2 separate regions of the Homo sapiens genome follow, and region 1 is linked to region 2. The links come from fine-mapping of genetic effects on gene expression. A gene starts in region 2. The other region holds a variant in brackets. All regions are shown on one strand. Distances are from middle to middle. Region 1 overlaps EHD4 (EH domain containing 4). Region 2 holds the start of SPTBN5 (spectrin beta, non-erythrocytic 5).

What was found. PIP is the estimated chance that this variant, and not a neighbour inherited with it, causes the effect.
Region 1: its variant is the best candidate, but not a certain one, in a credible set for the expression of SPTBN5 in putamen (GTEx, PIP 0.56).

Annotation. Positions count from the first base shown.
Region 1 is chr15:41,947,039-41,955,714 of GRCh38, forward strand. It overlaps EHD4 (EH domain containing 4), which reads right to left. Exons shown (of 6, transcript NM_139265.4): 2 at 6,726-6,902. It overlaps LOC124903477 (a long non-coding RNA gene), which reads left to right. Exons shown (of 2, transcript XR_007064603.1): 2 at 8,216-8,676. Among named protein-coding and RNA genes, the nearest start is that of EHD4, 21 kb to the right of the region's middle. The variant G/A (reference allele first, on the strand shown) is at 4,565.
Region 2 is chr15:41,890,741-41,899,416 of GRCh38, forward strand. It overlaps SPTBN5 (spectrin beta, non-erythrocytic 5), which reads right to left and starts at 3,313. Exons shown (of 68, transcript NM_016642.4): 1 at 3,159-3,313; 2 at 2,542-2,806; 3 at 2,154-2,321. The coding sequence starts at 2,757. EHD4 (EH domain containing 4) reads right to left here. Exons shown (of 6, transcript NM_139265.4): 6 at 5,193-8,676. It overlaps LOC105370792 (a long non-coding RNA gene), which reads left to right and starts at 2,037. Exons shown (of 4, transcript NR_135681.1): 1 at 2,037-2,338; 2 at 4,487-4,596; 3 at 4,840-6,781; 4 at 7,427-8,075. RefSeq lists enhancers at 29-904, 2,098-2,157.

The DNA.
Region 1 (8,676 bases), 56 kb after region 2:
GCATTTAGAGGAGGAGACTGGGCACAGAGCAGACACATGCCATAACATGCTGAGAAGTGATGGAGCTGGGACATGAACTTGGCAGTGCTGACTGCAGAGCCCAGGTTCTTCACTCCTGGGCTACTATCACCATGGCACACACTGGAACCACTGCTGTGTGGCATATCATGTGCAGGGCAACATCCTAAAACAAAGGGGTGACGTGCCACAGCCCTGGAACTTGCCCCTAAGAGGCTTCCTTGTGTGGTTTGCTCTCTACCTAGTGGTGTGGAGTGTCTGTCAGGGTGGGGAACAGGAGGTAGGAGATTTAGGCTCCAGACGTCTCCCTTACTCATTCTGAGACCTTGACCTTGCACAGGTCTCTAAACCTCTCTGAGCAATTCTACCAGGCCTGCGGACTTCCAGGTTTGCCATTAGGTTCAAATAAACCTAAGCTTACAGCGGAGAGAGTATAGAATTGTTTCAAAGTACTTCTTTTCACCCCAGCCCACTTTATTGATGAGGGTAAAACCAGAGAGATAATACAACTTCCTAAATTTGCACAGTAAATAGAACACAACCCACAAAAAAGACTTTGACAACTGAACTGTAATAATTCTTATTATATGGTCCTACCACAAATGGCTAATCTTATCTTCCAGTGCCTAGGAAGAACTAGGAACTGAATTTCACATCCAGATTACAGCAAAGCCCCTGGTTGCCCTATTAGATTGAAACTAATTACCACTTTTAAAGGTTAAAGATTATTTAAGACTGCCAATTTCATATGGTTCAACCTAAATATGTACTTTTATAAATCCCCTCCTGACTGCCACAGGGGAAAGCCCAGTGCAATGGCCCAGCCAGGAAGGTCTGCCTGACCCCAGGGAGAAAGGCATTTCTGGAATGTCAGGACCAGAAATGTACAGGCAGCTGCTAGTCAAGAACAATGGTTTAGGCCAGGCGCGGTGGCTCACGCCTGTAATCCCAGCACTTTGGGAGGCCAAGGCAGGTGGATCACGAGGTCAGGAGTTCAAATCAGCCTGGCCAACACAGTGAAACCCTGTCTGTACTAAAAATACAAAAATTAGCCGGGTGTGGTGGTGAGCACCTGTAATCACAGCTACTCGGGAGGCTGAGGCAGAGAATTGCTTGAACCCGGGAGGCAGAGTTTGCAGTGAGCCAAGATTGCGCCACTGCACTCCAGCATAGGTGATGGAGCAAGACTCCGCCTCCAAAAAAAAAACCACGATGGTTTAGTGACCAGGGAACTACCACCCAGGGAACCACCACAAATCTTTTTTATTATTGTTATTTTTTTAGGGACAAGGTCTCTCGCTATGTTGCCCAGGTTGGTCTCAAACTCCTGAGCTCAAGTGATCGGCCTGCCTCGGCCTCCCAAAGTGCTGGGATTATAGGTGTGAGCCACCGTGGCTGGCCAACAAATCTTGAGGTTAAAGAATAATGGGGAAAGCTTCAGCAAGTTTATTATAGATAAATGAACCACAATACACATGCACAAGACAACCCAGTTATTCCCTCAGATTAAAAAAAAATTATTTTGCTGGTGAATCAAGAGTCATTCTTGGCAAAAGCCTGTTTTCCTTAATTTCTGCAGCTAAATTGGCTGGGGGAAGCCGCACGTGCTTGGACTGATGCTGTGAACTTTAGTAAGTCAGTTTTTAAAAATTCCCAGTGGTACACAGTGACTATCAAATATTCAAAACTTGGCTAGGCACAGTGTCTCATGCCTGTAATCCCAGCACTCTGGGAGGCCAAGGCGGGTAGACTGCTTGGGCCCAGGAGTTCAAGACCAGCCTGGCCAATATGGCAAAACCCTGTCTTTACAAAAAATACAAAAATTAGCTGGGCATGGTGACACACGCCTGTCGTCCCAGCAATCGGGAAGCTGAGGTGGGAGGATTGCTGGAGCAGAAGTTGAGGCTGCAGTGAGCTGTGATCGTGCCTCCGCGCTCCAGCCTGGGCAACAGAGTGAGACTATATATATATATATATATATATATATATATATATACACACATACACACACACATACATATACATAAATTTGGCCAGGCATGGTGGCTCATGCCTGTAATCCCAGCACTTTGGGAGGCCGAGGCAGGTGGATCACCTGAGGTCAGGAATTCAAGACCAGCCTCGCCAACATGGTGAAACCTCATCTCTACTAAAAATACAAAAAGTAGCTGGGCATGGAGGTGGGCACCTGTAATCCCAGCTACTCGGGAGGCTGAGAGAGGAGAATCACTTCAACCCGGGAGGCAGAGGTTGCAGTGAGCCGAGATTGCGCAGCTGCACTCCAGCCTGGGTGACAGAGCAAGACTCCATCTCAAAAAAATAATAATAATAAAATAAAATCAAAACTCAAAAGCTAAACTGAGTGAAGCCTCGCTTAATTACAAATACAGAAGTAACAAATGGAGTAGAAGGTCAATAATACACCTGCGTATTTTATGATGGGGGAATCACCATTCAAGCATAACACAGTGGTTGTTTATCATCACCATCATCAGGCCCAGCTAAAATGACTGAGCCCTGGAAGGGCTGTTCACATTCCTTCAGCTCAAAGGGAAGTTTCAAAATTTCAATTCCCAGGGCCAGTGATTCAAGTTATTTTTTAGAAAGAAACAGAGGCAATGAGGAAGTACATGAGATTAAGAATTTCTTCTGTGGAAGATAACAATTTAAAATAATACTAGATCCTAGACAAAAAATGTCTACAGCTATCTGAATTTGAAAATATACACATTACCATTTTTTAGAAAAGGAGACTGAGGAATAACATAACATCTTATTCAAAAGCAGACTGCAAGGGGAAATGTCAGACCCCAATGCCTGGCACTTCCCTGGCGTCTCAGAGGATCCAATGCTCTGGGTGCCCTTGGCTGTCTCCTCCTCTGTGAGGGGCAACTGCCTCCTGATAGCAACCTCTGGAATGTCAACAAGCACCTCCCCAGAGCTGCTCCCAGATGGGCCACTGAGGAATTCGTCGTGAGCACAGCAGTCTGCTAGAGTTTCAGAATGTCTCACTAAAGCCATTTCCATAGACCTCTGTGTGTTCTAAACTCCTTTTATTGTTCAAGTATGGAATTTCTCTAATATAAACCTTTTTAGGAATTTATCTTCATTTCTCAGAAATGCACCATAGACCCCTTGTCGCTCCTTAGAAGCCAGCCTGGGAGGCTGTGACTCGGGCTTTGCTGGTTTGCTTAATGGTGGAGGGTGTTGTCCCCCTCCAGGTATCACCTGGTACTTAACTCTTTTAAAGATGCCCCTGGGGGCAGATGCCCAAGCCAGCACTCCTTAAGGAGAAGGCCAGGTAATAACGATCTGTCACAGGGAGATTCTGGTGTGGCTGCTTGGGAGAGAAAGTTCTCCGCAGAAAACAAGCAATTTTCTTTACTAGGTGTTACATTTTGACCTAGTTCCCAGAGAAGTATGCTATGTGAAAAGAGGTTTGCCTCTAGTACTAACCCTGTGCTGTTCCCAGACGGAAGCTATAATTATGTACACATATTTGAACGCCCTAACTAATTGACTCTTTCTTAAATAACTGCTGTGTGATGCAGTGGCACTGTCCTGTGGATACTACTTAATGAGGCTGTTTACTCTTAAGTAGCTATGAGTTTACATGAGGCATGTCCCTTACACGTGAGCCTGACACACACTTGGCTAGAAGGACAGAAACTCCTCTTGGCCGATGCTGAGCAGAGGCATAGGGTGTGGGACAGGGGAGAAGGGGAACACTGGATTCCAATCCCCTCTCTGCCTCTTCCTGATGGCCTCTCCCTGAGCAAGTCATGTCTTTGCTTTCGGCCTTCTCATTTGTAGATTGGCAACAGTATTGTCTGTGTTATCAACGCCAAAAGAATAATGTACATGAAATTACGTAAGTGATGACTTGGGACATAATCACCGTCATCTTCATCATCATTACTGGAGGGCTACATTAGGAACAGCCTTACTAACCCTAACCCTAACCCTAACCCTAACCCTAAGAGTTAAATAGGGGGCACTGGGCAGTGATTCCCAGTCCAAACATCATACTATTGGTCAGCTGGCCTGGGTTCCAGTCCCAGCACTGATCTCACTGGTGGAGTGACCCCCAGAAATTAAAGTAACCTCTTTATGCCTTGATTCCTCCCCCTCCATTGAGGATAACAGTAGCATCATGTCACAGGGGTTCTGTGAGGATTTAAAGCTAATACACAAGTCTAGAACAGAATCTGACACATAAATGCCATATAATTATTTGCTATTATTTTTCTATATGTTATTCTGAATTCAACTGACACTTGCTTTTATTATAAGGCATGGATTATTTTCAGCAAGTTTTAAATTCTGAGACAAGAGCTTTGCCATTCAAAATCGTTCCTAAAAATTTCTTTTCTGTACTCATCTGTCATGTGCTTGGGATTTGAGAAGAAAAAAACATTTTTTTTTTTTGTTAGGAAAGTAAATCATTTGCCAAAATAAAGCAAGCCAATAACCACTCTTCCTGGTTTCTCCCTTGTGAATTCAGACTTCACAAAGTGGGAATTTGAAAAAACTGGCAGCTTATTTC[G/A]TTAAGCCTTTGTTGGGCAAAAAGAGCCCCAGACAAAGGGCAGTGGCAATGAAACCAGAGGACCCCAGGGAAGCCTTCCACAGAGACAGATCCTGTGCCTTGAACTTTCTGGGGCCTCCTGTTCTGGTCTACTTCCCCTCCACCCTGGGCCACTCTGTCCTGAGAGATCTGGAGAGTTGACCCTCTGGGGTTCTCCCGCCCAGGGCTTAACCCCCTCTCCCACAATGAGACACTCTGGTGCCAACCAAGTCAGCTCTGGAGTTGAAGAGTAAACTCCTCCTAGAAAAGTCAGCCCTGCAGGTTGGAAAAAAATCACCTGGACAGTGTTCCTATCACCATCAGTAATAAGATGGAACTCCTCTGGGACTCCTTCCACATCACCTGCAGGTTTCTGTTCATCCCACTGCCAAGTTCCCTGGTTGCTTTCTTTGATTTGCAATAGGATCATCAAAAAGCCCCTAATGGAGAATTCAGCTCCCCGGAGAGTTCCATCTTCCACAGAAGGCACCTGCGGAGGGGCCTGGGTGGCCCTCAGCCGAGCCAGTGCACAGCATCCAGCACATCATTCATTCCCCAGGCCACATGAATGGTGCCCCTGGAGCTGCGCGATGAGGCGCTTCGGCCTTTGGGAGGACAGCAGCCGGCTGGGAGGATCCGTTCCTATTTTTAAAAACTTCTAGAAAGGAGATGTGGACTGTCAGCTCTAATGCTACTTCCTCTCCCTAAAGAGGCTCGGATGACCCTCCCTAGCTCTGTGCCTCCTACAACCCACTCCTCCAAATCAGCCACACGAAAGCTAGACCCAGGAAAGAGGGAAATAGAGGGGTGGGAGAGGGATGATAGGAAACAAGAAAAAAGCATTACACAAACGCAAGGGGTAGCAAATAGGAGGTGCAGGAGGGAGGAAGGAAGGCAGATCCAGTGGGAAAGGGCAGAGTTGTAGCCAGGGGTACCAGCTGGCCTGTCTTCCCCAGGCCAGCAGCCCTCAGTTCCACTGGGAACTCTAATGAAAGGTTATGGGAGGAGTACAAATAAAACACATCTCCAAGTGAGGCAGAACCTCAGTGACCCCACAACTTTACATCTATAAAATAGTGACCACGTAGGCTGGGTGTGGTGGCTCACATCTGTAATCCCAGCACTCTGGGAAGGCGAGGCGGGTGGATCACCTGAGGTCAGGAGTTTGAGACCAGCTTGGCCAACATGGTGAAACCCTGTCTGTACTAAAAATACGAAAATTAGCTGGGTGTGGTGGTGGGTGCCTGTAATCCCAGCTACTTGGGAGGCTGAGGCAGGAGAATTGCTTGAACCTGGGAGGCGGAGGTTGCAGTGAGCGGAGATCATGCCACTGCACTCCAGCCTGGGAGACAGAATGAGACTCTATCTTCCCCCCCGCAAAAAAAAAAAAAAAAAAAAAAACGACCACGTAAGAAAATCAGCTTTTCATGTTTTTCACTCTGTTTCCCTGGCCCTGCTCTGATGAATAAGGAAACAGCTCAAAGCTGGGAGTGAGAAGCAAAAGGGACAGCCAGGGAGGTGAGGGGTCCTGTTCTGGAGTCAGTGGGTAAAATCCGAGTGTCCGGTGAAGGTTAGGGGTCCTCTGGGCTAAGCTCTCTGACTGCAGAAGCCCAGCGCACCATGCCTGAGAGGTGTCTGTCTAACCAGTGCTTAACATTGCCAGTGACGAGGAGCTCACTGCCTCATGAGGCAGCCTAATCCATTTCTGTGCAGCTCAAATTATTAGAAATTTGTTCCTTATACTGTAAGCATTTTTATTTTTTAACTTTTAAAATTTTTTGCAGAGACAGGGTCTTACTTCGTTGTCCAAGCTGGTCTCAAACTCCTGGCTTCGAACAATCCTTTTGCCTCAGCCTCCCAAAGTGCTGGATTACAAGCACGAGCCACACACCTGGCCCTGTGCAGCCTTATAATGTCCAGTTCTGGGCCTTAGCTCTGCCCTCTCAAGTTACCCAGAATAGGCATAAATGATTATTTCCTATGATAGTCTTTCAAATATCTTAATATGATAAACATATTTTGTATGACTTCTAGAGCAGAGATTCTTTGTTCTTCTGTTTTTGAACCTTTATATGTAACTGGCAGTAATTCAAAGAAAAGGTTTAAACAGCCTGACCGAAGATGGCAGCTTGCTGGTCCTTACCGATTCAGGAAAGCGTTTCCAAAGCGACTGAGCTTTCTAAACGGCTTTTTGGGGTCCACGACTAAAGCATTCCCTGGGGTGCTGCCCTCAGTCTCTCCATACATCACGGCGATGAAGGAGTCTGTGGTGGGCTCCGGACCAATCCTCATGCCTGGGAAATCCTGCTCCAGTAGGTATCTGGGAGAGGGAAGAAGAAGAGAAAGCTTAGCATCTTATCACAAAGTAAGAGGCCAGAAAGCTGCCTGGGATTACCAATTTTTTTACATAATCATTTAAAAACGTAGAAACATAACCCCCAAGAAAAGCACGCAATCCTCCTCTGCATTTCTGTTGATGCAACAGACGCTACCCCAAGGGAAGTGTACCGTGCTGGCTCCTGGGCATCCTGGAAGCTCTGCTCAGGCTCAGCTCCCTTAGGGGAGCCTCCCTGACCTGCATGTGGGGACACCTCTTTTGTGGTCCCTGGGCACCCTGTGCCTGCTGCCAGCGTGGTGCTCAGCATGTGTACTACAATTACTTGTTTATGGGCCCTGCAAGGTGTCTGAGCTGATGAGGGCAGACTCATGTCCCAACCATGCCAGGAGGATGATCTTCGTCTTATAAGCCTTGAAGGGGCTCAAGGGAAAAAACCTGCACAGCCTTCTGCAGCTCCCCATTCCTGCAACTAACAATCTATTTGGTCCTAAACTACTTCTTTGTTTCTAAAAAGTTTTGACTGATTCTAATGTAAGCCCACAATCTGTGACTATTTCCAGGGAAAGAGAGAAAGTGCTGAATTCTATCAAATGCCAAATACAATTTTTCCATCTTTAAAAGAATGAGAAATTAAGCCACCATTTAGACCTATGTTTTCTATGTAAATAAAACTGAAAAAAAATTTTTTTTTTTGAGACTGGGTCTTGCTCTGTTGCCCAGGCTGGCTGGAGTGCAGTGGTGCAATCTCGGCTCACTGCTGCCTCGACCTCCTGGGCTCCAACAATCCTCCTGCCTCAGCCTCCCAAGTAGCTGGGACTACAGACACATGCCACCATGCCTAGCTAATTTTTTGTAGAAACAGGGTTTCACCATGTTGCCCAGGCTGGTCTTGAATGCCTGGGCTCAAGCTATCCCCTCACCTTGGCCTCCCAAAGTACTGGGATTACAGGCATGAGCCACCGCAACTGGCCTAAAACTGAAATTGTTTAGCAACCTTAACGGGCTATATTCTAAACCTTTAATTGATGTCATTGCTAGTTTTCACTTCATCCAAAGTTTCTACGTTTCTGTGAAGTTGTGGCACCCCAGAATAGATACACCATTAAAATATGTCTCCTAAATTTACAGTAAATCTGATGATATCTTTTATCTCTAAATTTAGAGAAAAAAATCTGCTAATAGCACACGGCATTTACTGAGTGCTTGCTATATTCCTGATATGGCGCTGAGCCTTCTATATTGTTTCACCTCATGCTCTGAGGTGGATGATGACATTACCCTCGTTTTATTTACAGGTGGGAAAACTGGGGCATCAGAGAGGCCAAGCGGCTTGCCCAAGGTCACACAGCGGATGTTCGAGTGGAAATGGAATGCAAGCATTCAGACTCCAGAACTTGCACTGTCTTCAGAAATGGCCTCAAGTTAGTGGTTTGCTCAGGGGTGAAGAGCAAAGCAAAGTTCAGGGCCTCATCCCAGGGTGTGTCACTTGGCATGAGGGACGAGGACCCCCATTTCCTCTCAGCTGAGGGGAAGAGCTCTCCACAATGTCCCCCTGCACGGTCCTCTGGCTACCCTGACAACAAGGGCCAGCTCTCCCTACTCTCCCTGGAGTAAAGCTGGGCTCAGGAGGTGCTACCGTTTCAAAATGTGTTCAGCTTTAATTTTTAAAATATCTTCAAGAGTTTCTCCATCAAAACCTCTGTATCCCTAATAGCCTAGAAATGTTCGTGTTGATCAATTCTTACACATTCCACAC
Region 2 (8,676 bases):
GCCTGGGAATTTGCACTTGAACAACACCTTGGGTGGCTCTTAGGTACACCAAAGTTGAGACTCCTCTGCCCTACATCCTGCCATTTGGACAGGGAGGATGGGTGAGTCAAGGGGAGAAGCCCTGCAGGATCTGGCCCCCAGCCCCCTGTGGCTCCATCTTCCACCCTGTGGAATCACATAGCTCCAAGGCCCATGGGATTCTTATAGTTCCATGGGATTCTAAGCACAGGACTTCAGGCCTTTGCAGGGCCGTGCCTGCTGTCTGAAAGTATTCTCCCAGGTATCTGCATGGCTATTCACCTCCCTGCCTTTAACTCTTCACTCAGATGTTGCCTAGCCTGACCACTTTATTTAACACAGAAACTTAAGGACTATTTCTCCCACCCAAATACACACTCTCGATCCCCTTGCCCTGCTCAAGTGAGGATCTTGGCTTTGTTTTCTGGTGTATCCTAGGGGAGTGGCACACAGCAGGCAATCGATCAGTAAGTACTGAATGGAGAAAGAAAAGGAGTGAGACTTTCCATAAGACCTGAAGGGCAACTGGCTTCAGCCGGCCACTACTAGCCCTGTGGGAGGAGCTGCAATCCTGGGTGTCCCCCTAGGTAAACTTTGGTATATCTGGCTGGCCTCTAAAGGATCCCACCCATGCTCCTGGGGTGGATTCCACCTGCCATGTCAATCACCTTGGCTTAGAGTTGGAGCCTCTGGTGAGTGGGGTGTTTGTCTGCTCCTCCCAGCTCCTGAGAGCCTATCCTCCTGACTTCCTATTGAGCGATGTCACGCTGGTGGCTTAAACTCACCGTGATGGGGGGTATTAACGCCATAGGATCAGCGAATACAGCACACTGGAGTTTTTATTTCCCCCAGAGAATCATTTGTTAAACGTTTACCAGCACACCGCTGATCTGGGTTCAATGAATCTGTCTCCCTTTGAAGCCAGGTGCCTTGAGGTGGGGGTCTGGGCTTTGCTTAGTGGAGCCCAGCGCCTGCATAGAATGCCCAGGGCATGGGAGCATCTCCATAAGCGAATGCATCCCTCATTCTGCCACACATTCCCTGTGTGTTTGCGGCAACTCCGTCATCCTTTCTAGACCACAGTTGCCTCCTATGTGTATGGAGACAAGGATGTCACCCTCACAGGTATCAGTGACATGCTGTATATTAAAGCTTGGGGAGAGCTGCAACACCTCTGACAAAGGCTGTGGGGCTTACACCCTTCCCCAGTTCCTGGAGGGGAGATGACTGGCTCACAGGGTCATTGTCCCTGGATCAACTAGGGCCCAGCATTCTGCAGCTGGCAGCGTTCTGCTCTTGCACCTGCTCAGGACAGCAGTCACTCCCATTCCCTTTGCTTGGGCTTCTCCCCTCCCTGGCTTTCCTCCAACACACCCCAGGAGGCTGGATGTAAGCTCCACTCCAGGATATAGTGATAGGCACGCACAGTCAGGCTCCATCCAGCCAGGCCCAGCTCAGTGACTTCACAGCCTCCAGGGACAGCCACCTCCAGGAGCCCTTGGCCTTCACAGTTCCCGGTTTCCAATGATCCCTTTGCCCCACCCCACCCCTGCACCAGCCCCTCACCCTGGCCATGAGGGTCCCTCTGTCCCTGGAGCTCCGGCCTCCTTTTAGTGCCCATCTCCTTAGCCTGTCCCTTTCTTTCAGGTGACTCTGCCTCCCCCCATTTGCTGAGGCCTCCTCCCTCCTTCTCCAAGACAGGCCCTGCTCCTCTTCCCCACCTGCCGTCTTAGTCCCACATCTGGGCTCTGTTGGCTGGTTAACCATCGATCTTGCCTGGTAAATAATTCAGGGCCTCTGTTTCCTCATCTGTGAAATGAAAAGCCTAAGAGAACGCTAAGATTCTTTTGGCCTAGAATCCTGTGAGTCTCTCTTATGACAGACAGTGACATTTTCCACCCCAGTAGGGACCTGGATTGCTACTGCCATGGCCAGCTGGGTGCTCTCCAAGTCAGGGGTGCTGTGCGAGGAGGGCGTGGCTTCTGCTCCTCTGTGTCCCAGCCACTCCTCCTGTACTCAGGCCCCAGCTCCTCTGTTCTGCCCAGTGGCCTGGCGCAGGAAAGGTGACCCAGTAGTTCAGCCTGTCCCAGCTGCCTGCCCCAGCACCATCCCAGACCCCTTTCCCTGGGGCCCACCTTGGCCCTGAGGAAGGCCAGAGCTCGGCTGCTGTTCTCCAGGAAGTGCACACGCAGGCGGCCCCGGCTCGGGGGTGGCAGGGCCTCCCCTGAGATGAGCTCCAGCAGCCGCAGGAGGTGGATGCCGTCAGCCAGCTCTGTGTACAGGTTCCGGATCTTGATGCCCGCCTGGGGAGGGGACAGGGGTAAGTATGGGGTCAGCCCAGCCTCACCTGTCCTCCCATCCTGGGACCTGAGAGGTACGACCCAGAGCAGCTGCTTTGGAAGAAGGAGCTCTGGCCTCAGCTTGGCCTCAGGCAGATGACCCCACAGCTCACCCCGGAGGCCCACTGGCCAGAGCTGGGGGCCTGGTATGGGTGGGCTGTGGGTCACAGCTGGCTATACTCACCTGGCCGCACTGGAAGACGTTATTGATCCACTTGGTGAAAGTCTTCTCCTGCATCTGCATGTGCCGGGCCTGTAGCTTGCGAATGTGGCCCGTCTCGTACTGAGAGTCCATGGTGAGACTTGGACTGGGCGGGACCCGGAGTTCTGTGCTGGGCCTCCTGCTGCGGTGCCCTGCAGCCCCGAGGAGCTCCCGGGGACTGTGGGGCTGACCAGCCATCAGCCCTGCAGACTTTGGGGATGAGGAGCTGCTGGATGGCTCCCTAAACCTGGAGGGCATGCAGATTAGGGGATGATGTGAATGGAGATGGCCCCTCTACCAGGGGCCTGGGGTCCCGCCTTGCCAGACTGTCCTCACATTTCATGGGGGTTGCAGCTTGGAGCCCAGCCAGGTAAGGGCCAGTGCTTCTGGTCCCCTGTGCTTGAATGGCCCAGGGCCCCCTTTGCCCCACCCCACCTTCCAGATTCTTCTTCTCAGAGCCCCTGCTGCCAGGTCCCTCCACCACAGTGACTGGGACAGGTGGAAGGAAGACAGGAAACTGCTTACCTTGGTGATGCCTGGGTCCCACAGAGACGGCTCTGCTGGACGGATGGAGATGGTAGATAGCAGGGGCTGCTTACCTTGGTGATGCCTGGGTTCCACAGAGGCGGCCCAGCTGGACGGATGGAGATGGCAGATAGCAGGGGCTGTGGAGGGAGGGAGAGGGACATCAGGAGAGGCCAAGGCTGGAGCAGGGCTGCACCACAGCCCTCCCCTTGAGCCAGCGTGCTGGGGTGACGGCACACAGGCGGCATTGTCCTCCCACCTGCCACAGGGCGTGGCCCAGACAGGGAGGGGGTGGTTCAGGAATGCTCCAGGGCCATTGCCAGATGATGTCCTCCTTCATCATCCTCCCTTCCCCGCCAGCAACTTCTCCAACTCCAGGTGGGGGTCCTGGCTCCCAGGACGCAGAGGCCCATGGAGCGGCCCTGCCACCGCATGGGGTGCTGCAGTCTGCGTAGGAGGTACCAAAGGGCAGAGCCTCTGTGGGAAGCCTGTGGACGCACTTCCCAATCTGAGACTGCCCTCTGTACCCTCTTGGGGCCTCTCTGTGAGCACCCAGGGCGAGGGGATGAGGGAGCGTCCTGGGCCGTGGTCTTCTCATTCACCCCCAGGGAACAGCCCATAGACTGAGGGCCTCACAGACCCTGGGCTTGGCTTTCCAGGCCCTGCCAGAGTGCAGCCTGCCTAGCCCGGGGCTGAAGGGTAGGCTCCCTGGAGGAAGGGGTGACCTGGAACTGCGAGGGCTGTGGAGTCTCCTCCAAAATTAGAGACACGGTGTTAACTCTGGGCTCCACAGAGCTGGCCGTGGCCCGGGGCTCGGAGGCAGGGGTGCAGAGGGAGCTGGTGGGCGCCCATCCCTTCCTCCCCGAGCAGCCGTGGACTACATGCCAGAGTGAAGGCGAGTTCTAATTCTGGGGGTCTCACCCGCCTCTGGCTAAACTCAGGGTAGCAGTGTGGGCTGGGGTGTGTGTGTGTGGGTGTCTTCCAGCGGCCCTGGAGCCTCTGAAGCGACAGCCCGCTCCTCAGGGAGGCGCTCCTGGCAGCCACAGCCCACAGCAGGACAGCCGCTCAGCGCGCCCTTGAGAGCTGGGCTAGGGATGAGTCACACTTGAACCGCCTGGGCCCACTGCAGGCAGTCAGGGGTGACGCTGAGAGGTGCCGTGGTCTCGGGTGGGGTGCGGCTTCCTGCGTCTGAGAGACGCTTCCTCTCCTGCTGTCCTCTCCCTGCCAGGCCCCTTCTGCAGCGGCTGGCTTCCAGACACCCTGCGTCCCTCCCTTGCTCGCAGCAGTTGCTGTGGCGGTCCTCCCGTGCACCCCCCCTTCTGCCCTCACTGCCCCTGGGGGTCCTCATCACGGACCCCCTAACTCGGCATCCTGGACACCACCACCCCGCACCTTTCCACAGTGCAGCTCTGCTCGTGCCTGTGAAGCCTCCCACAGCCTGGGAAGGAAAATCCAGACTTGCCAGACCTTGCCTCAGCCAGGCCTTGGAAGCCTGCCAGCTTACCTAACCAGGCTAGTCTGCCCCCCTCACTCTGGGTGCTCTCCATGGGCCACTCACCATTTCCTGAGCAGGACCAGAGCTCTCCTGCCCCAAGGCTGGGCTTCAGCTGCTCTTTCAGCTTTGAACGTCCTTTCCCATTCTCCATCATCCACATTCACCTATCCTGCCTGCCCCAGTTAAAATCCTGTTTCTTCTAGGAAGTCCCTCATCCCACCCGCTTACCCCAGGGAGACTGAGCTTGTTCCTTCTCCTAGTAAGACCCTCAGCCCATGGAGTCCTGTGTGATGTTGTGAGCGTGGGAGGACAGACTGAACTGCTCGGCCCGTGGAGTCCTGTGTGATGTTGTGAGCGGGGAGGACAGACTGAACTGCGTGGTGCTTCGCACATAGACCTCAACAGGGATTGGCATTTTGAAGCTGTTGGCGGGGGCTGTGGACTGCTTTTCTTCCTTTCTAGCTCAACGGCAGCTAAAGCCACTGCATACAATGCAAGGACTGGCTCCTGTTTGGCCACGACTGATTGCAGCCCCTGGTGAAATGAGAACCCTGTGGGTCGGAACAAAGTTTGGATTATTTATGTTGCAAGTAACTAAAATCTCAAGTGAAACTGGTTTAAACATTATATTTTTATTATTTATTTATTTATATTTAATTCTTTTTTAGAGACAGGGTCTTCTTAGGTTGCCCAGGCTGGTCTTGAACTCCTGGCCTCAACGATCTTCCCACTTCAGCCTCCTGCATTGCTGGGATTATAGGTGTGAGCCACCATGCCTGGCTTACACAGTATAAAGGGAATGCATTGGCCCACACAGTGGAAAAAAATATCTAGTAGGAATAGGAAGGACTTCAGGTGAGGTTTGATCCAGCAGCTCAAATGTTGTCACCACAGGCCTGGATTCCTCTGGCCTTTCTCAAGGTCTCTTTCATTTTCATGCTCCACAAGATGGCTTCTGCCAGGCTGACCTCCCTCCCCTGACCCCAGCAGCTCTGGACACCCCTCTCAGTGCCATTTATATTGTTGCATCAATAGGCTCATTTCTATATACTGCAAGGTTCAGAGAAGACAGAGTATCTCTCTCAAGAGTTCTAACATAAGTCTGGGGGTCCTGGCTCTCATAGGCTTGAACAGGGCCACATGTCCATTCCTGAGCCAATATTTGTGACCAAGGGGATGTGGTCAATCTCATCCAAACCTCACTTGAAGTGAGGGTGGGAGGAGGAGTGCTCTGCAAGGAGACTGTAGGTCTGGACCACCAAAAAGGTAGATGGGTTGGTGGGAAAAGCCAGATGCCTACTATGGTAGTGGGCGGGGGGAGGGCACACTGGCAAGGTACAGCAAGAGGCAGGGGCAGTGCTGGACAGGCAGGGGCTCCTCCCTAGCACGACTGGAGAAAGGACTCCTGTGAAGCGGTCACCTCCATGAGTCCCTCCTGTCCTGGCTTCCAACCACTCTGAAGTGGGGCTTTTGTCCACAGACCTGGCCTCTGCTGCCTACCCTCTTCTGTCCCCACCTGATGGGGCCGCTTTCCTTCTGAAGCGGCTGCATTTTGGGTTTCTCTCCACAGGAAGAGTTGGGGCTCACAGGCACACCCTCTCCCTAACTCTTCTCCCCCGGTTCAACCTGGATCCAGGGATCCACACTCTGCTCCGAGAGGCCAGCACGCAGCCACTGGAAAATGAGCCAGTGGGAGAGGGCAGCTCCATGTTTATTGATCAGCAGACTATGTCTTTTTGTTTGAAACTTCTAAATAAGATTACAAAAAGAAAAAAAATAGAAGCATTGCGTATTAACTGCATTGGTTAACCAACATTGGAACCCAATACTCTTGTATTAGGCCCGCATTTACCTGAGTAAACTCAGTGGTTTTCTGTCCTAAGCATGCTTGCCTGCTACATCCCATGGAGAAAATAAACAGTGAAACACTTTCCTCATCTTCAAGGCAATTGTCTCAGGCATCCTCCAGGCATCATGAAGGAGGGTGAGCGAGGGTGCGAGGTGGAAAGGTCCAGGCCGCGGCTGTGACTCCCGCGGGTGAACCACAGCTCCACAGCCCCAAATCCAAAGATGCTCTTGCTGCAGCACGACAAGTGTTCAAAAGAGAACCAGGCCCAGCCCGGAGAAAGGAAAGCCAAAAGCCAACTGAATGAATGACCCTCCCCCAGAAGAGCAACCCTGCCCCCAGGCCATCCAAGTGCGGTGAGTTGAGAAATGAATTGACAGACGCTGCAGGGCTGGAGCAGGAGGCGGAAGCAGGTTGGAAGGCTGTTGTGTGCCACCCCTCCCTGGGAGCTGGGGAGATTCCCAAGTCTTAGTGCAGTGTTTCTCTACAAACGGGGTCAGGAGACCCTCACTGGCAGGCTGACAACTTGGAAGCAGACTGTGGGAGCAATAGGCTGGAGTTTTCATTTTCCCTTTAAACTCAAGACCGGAAGGTTTGTGTTATGCGATACCATATGCTGTGTAGAAAACAGGGCCTCAGCTTCTTAGATGTTGTAGTTCTAGAGTTTAGGTACTTCCACCCTCTCTCCTATACATAAACACTCTGTGGAAGAGGTTCTTTGAAAATTGGGGTGGTGCAGGAAGGGCAACGGTGATGGTGAGCAGGCCCCAGGGTCGGCCCTGCCGCCCTGCCGTGTGGGGTAGGGAGACAGCTGGTGGTGTGGACACATTCACAGAACTTTGTACTGGTCCTGGGAAGATACAAGTCCTCACTTGGTCGCCATCCCTCATATTTTCTAGTGTTTTCTTTTCCAGTCAACTTTTCTTGATGAATGACTGCATGTAAGAGGATATTAAGAAAAGTGGCCAAATGATTTCCTTTTTTTTTCCTTTCTCTCCAAGAACATTACCAGGTGCCAGCAGGGAAAGGACTCCGCTGCCTGACGCCTCTCCCACCTGAGAGCGCAGAGGTAGGGAGATCACAGTGCCTGAGAGGTTTTCCTCCACGGAGAAATCAGAGACCTCAACCTGCTGCCCTCTAAAGCAGCTTTCTGTATCCAGACAAAACTTACATATGTACACGTTGTTTTAAAACGACATACTCATGTGACACACATGTATATAAATTCATGTTTATATATGACAATTGAGGAGAGTTAAAGAACAAGATAATTCTGGATGGAAAAATCAGTTTGCCTGGGCATCTGTAAACCTTTGGGCAAGTGAATTCCCTCTTCTCTCTCAGTTCACCCTTTGGTGACCTCCACCGTGGCTGCAGACTTCAGGTGGTCCTCACGCATTCACAGAACTGTCTGCTTAGGTTACAGCACTTTGGGAGGCCGAGGTGGGTAGATCACGAGGTCAGGAGATCGAGACCATATTGACCAACATGGTAAAACCCCATCTCTACTAAAATACAAAAATTAGCCGGGCGTGGTGGCGGGTGCCTGTAGTCCCAGCTACTTGGGAGGCTGAGGCAGGGGAATCACTTGAACCTGGGAGGCGGAGGTTGCAGTGAACTGAGATTGCGCCACTGCACTCCAGCCTGGGTGACAGAGACTTCCTCTCAAAATAAAAATAAAAATAATAAAATAATAAATGGTTCTTTTCTATGCGTCTAATGAATTTAAGTGCTTGTTAAGACTAAAAACCATGTTATGCATTTCCTGCTCTTAAAACTAAATTATGTAGAAAGTAAGCTAGGGAGTGTAAGGGTAGGCATCTGGATATAAATGCTTCTCCCAAATCAAGATTTTCTCTTCAATCTGTGCCTTTGACCCTGTCACCAAAGGCAGGTGACAGAAAAAAAAAATTATGTGCCTTTTGGAAGACTCAGTGGGACGGTTCTGATTTCATTCACTTCTGGTGCCAGCAGGCCCCCATACCATGTGGCCATTGCTGTTTCGTGTCTCTTCCTGCATAAATAATGCAGAGAGGCCATGCAGGTATGCAATTTTCTGGAGATGAGGCAGGGAGATTTGCAAGGAAAAGTCACCTACCTCCCCAAGCTGGTGCCCACAGAGGGGGAGGCACCTCCACCTGACGCAGGTGTCTGAGCAGCAGTCCAGAGAGGTTTACTCAGGGGATTTGGGGAGCGCACACTCTGGAGCAGAAGTACAGGTATGTGCCCGAATCCTGCCTCGTGATGGGCA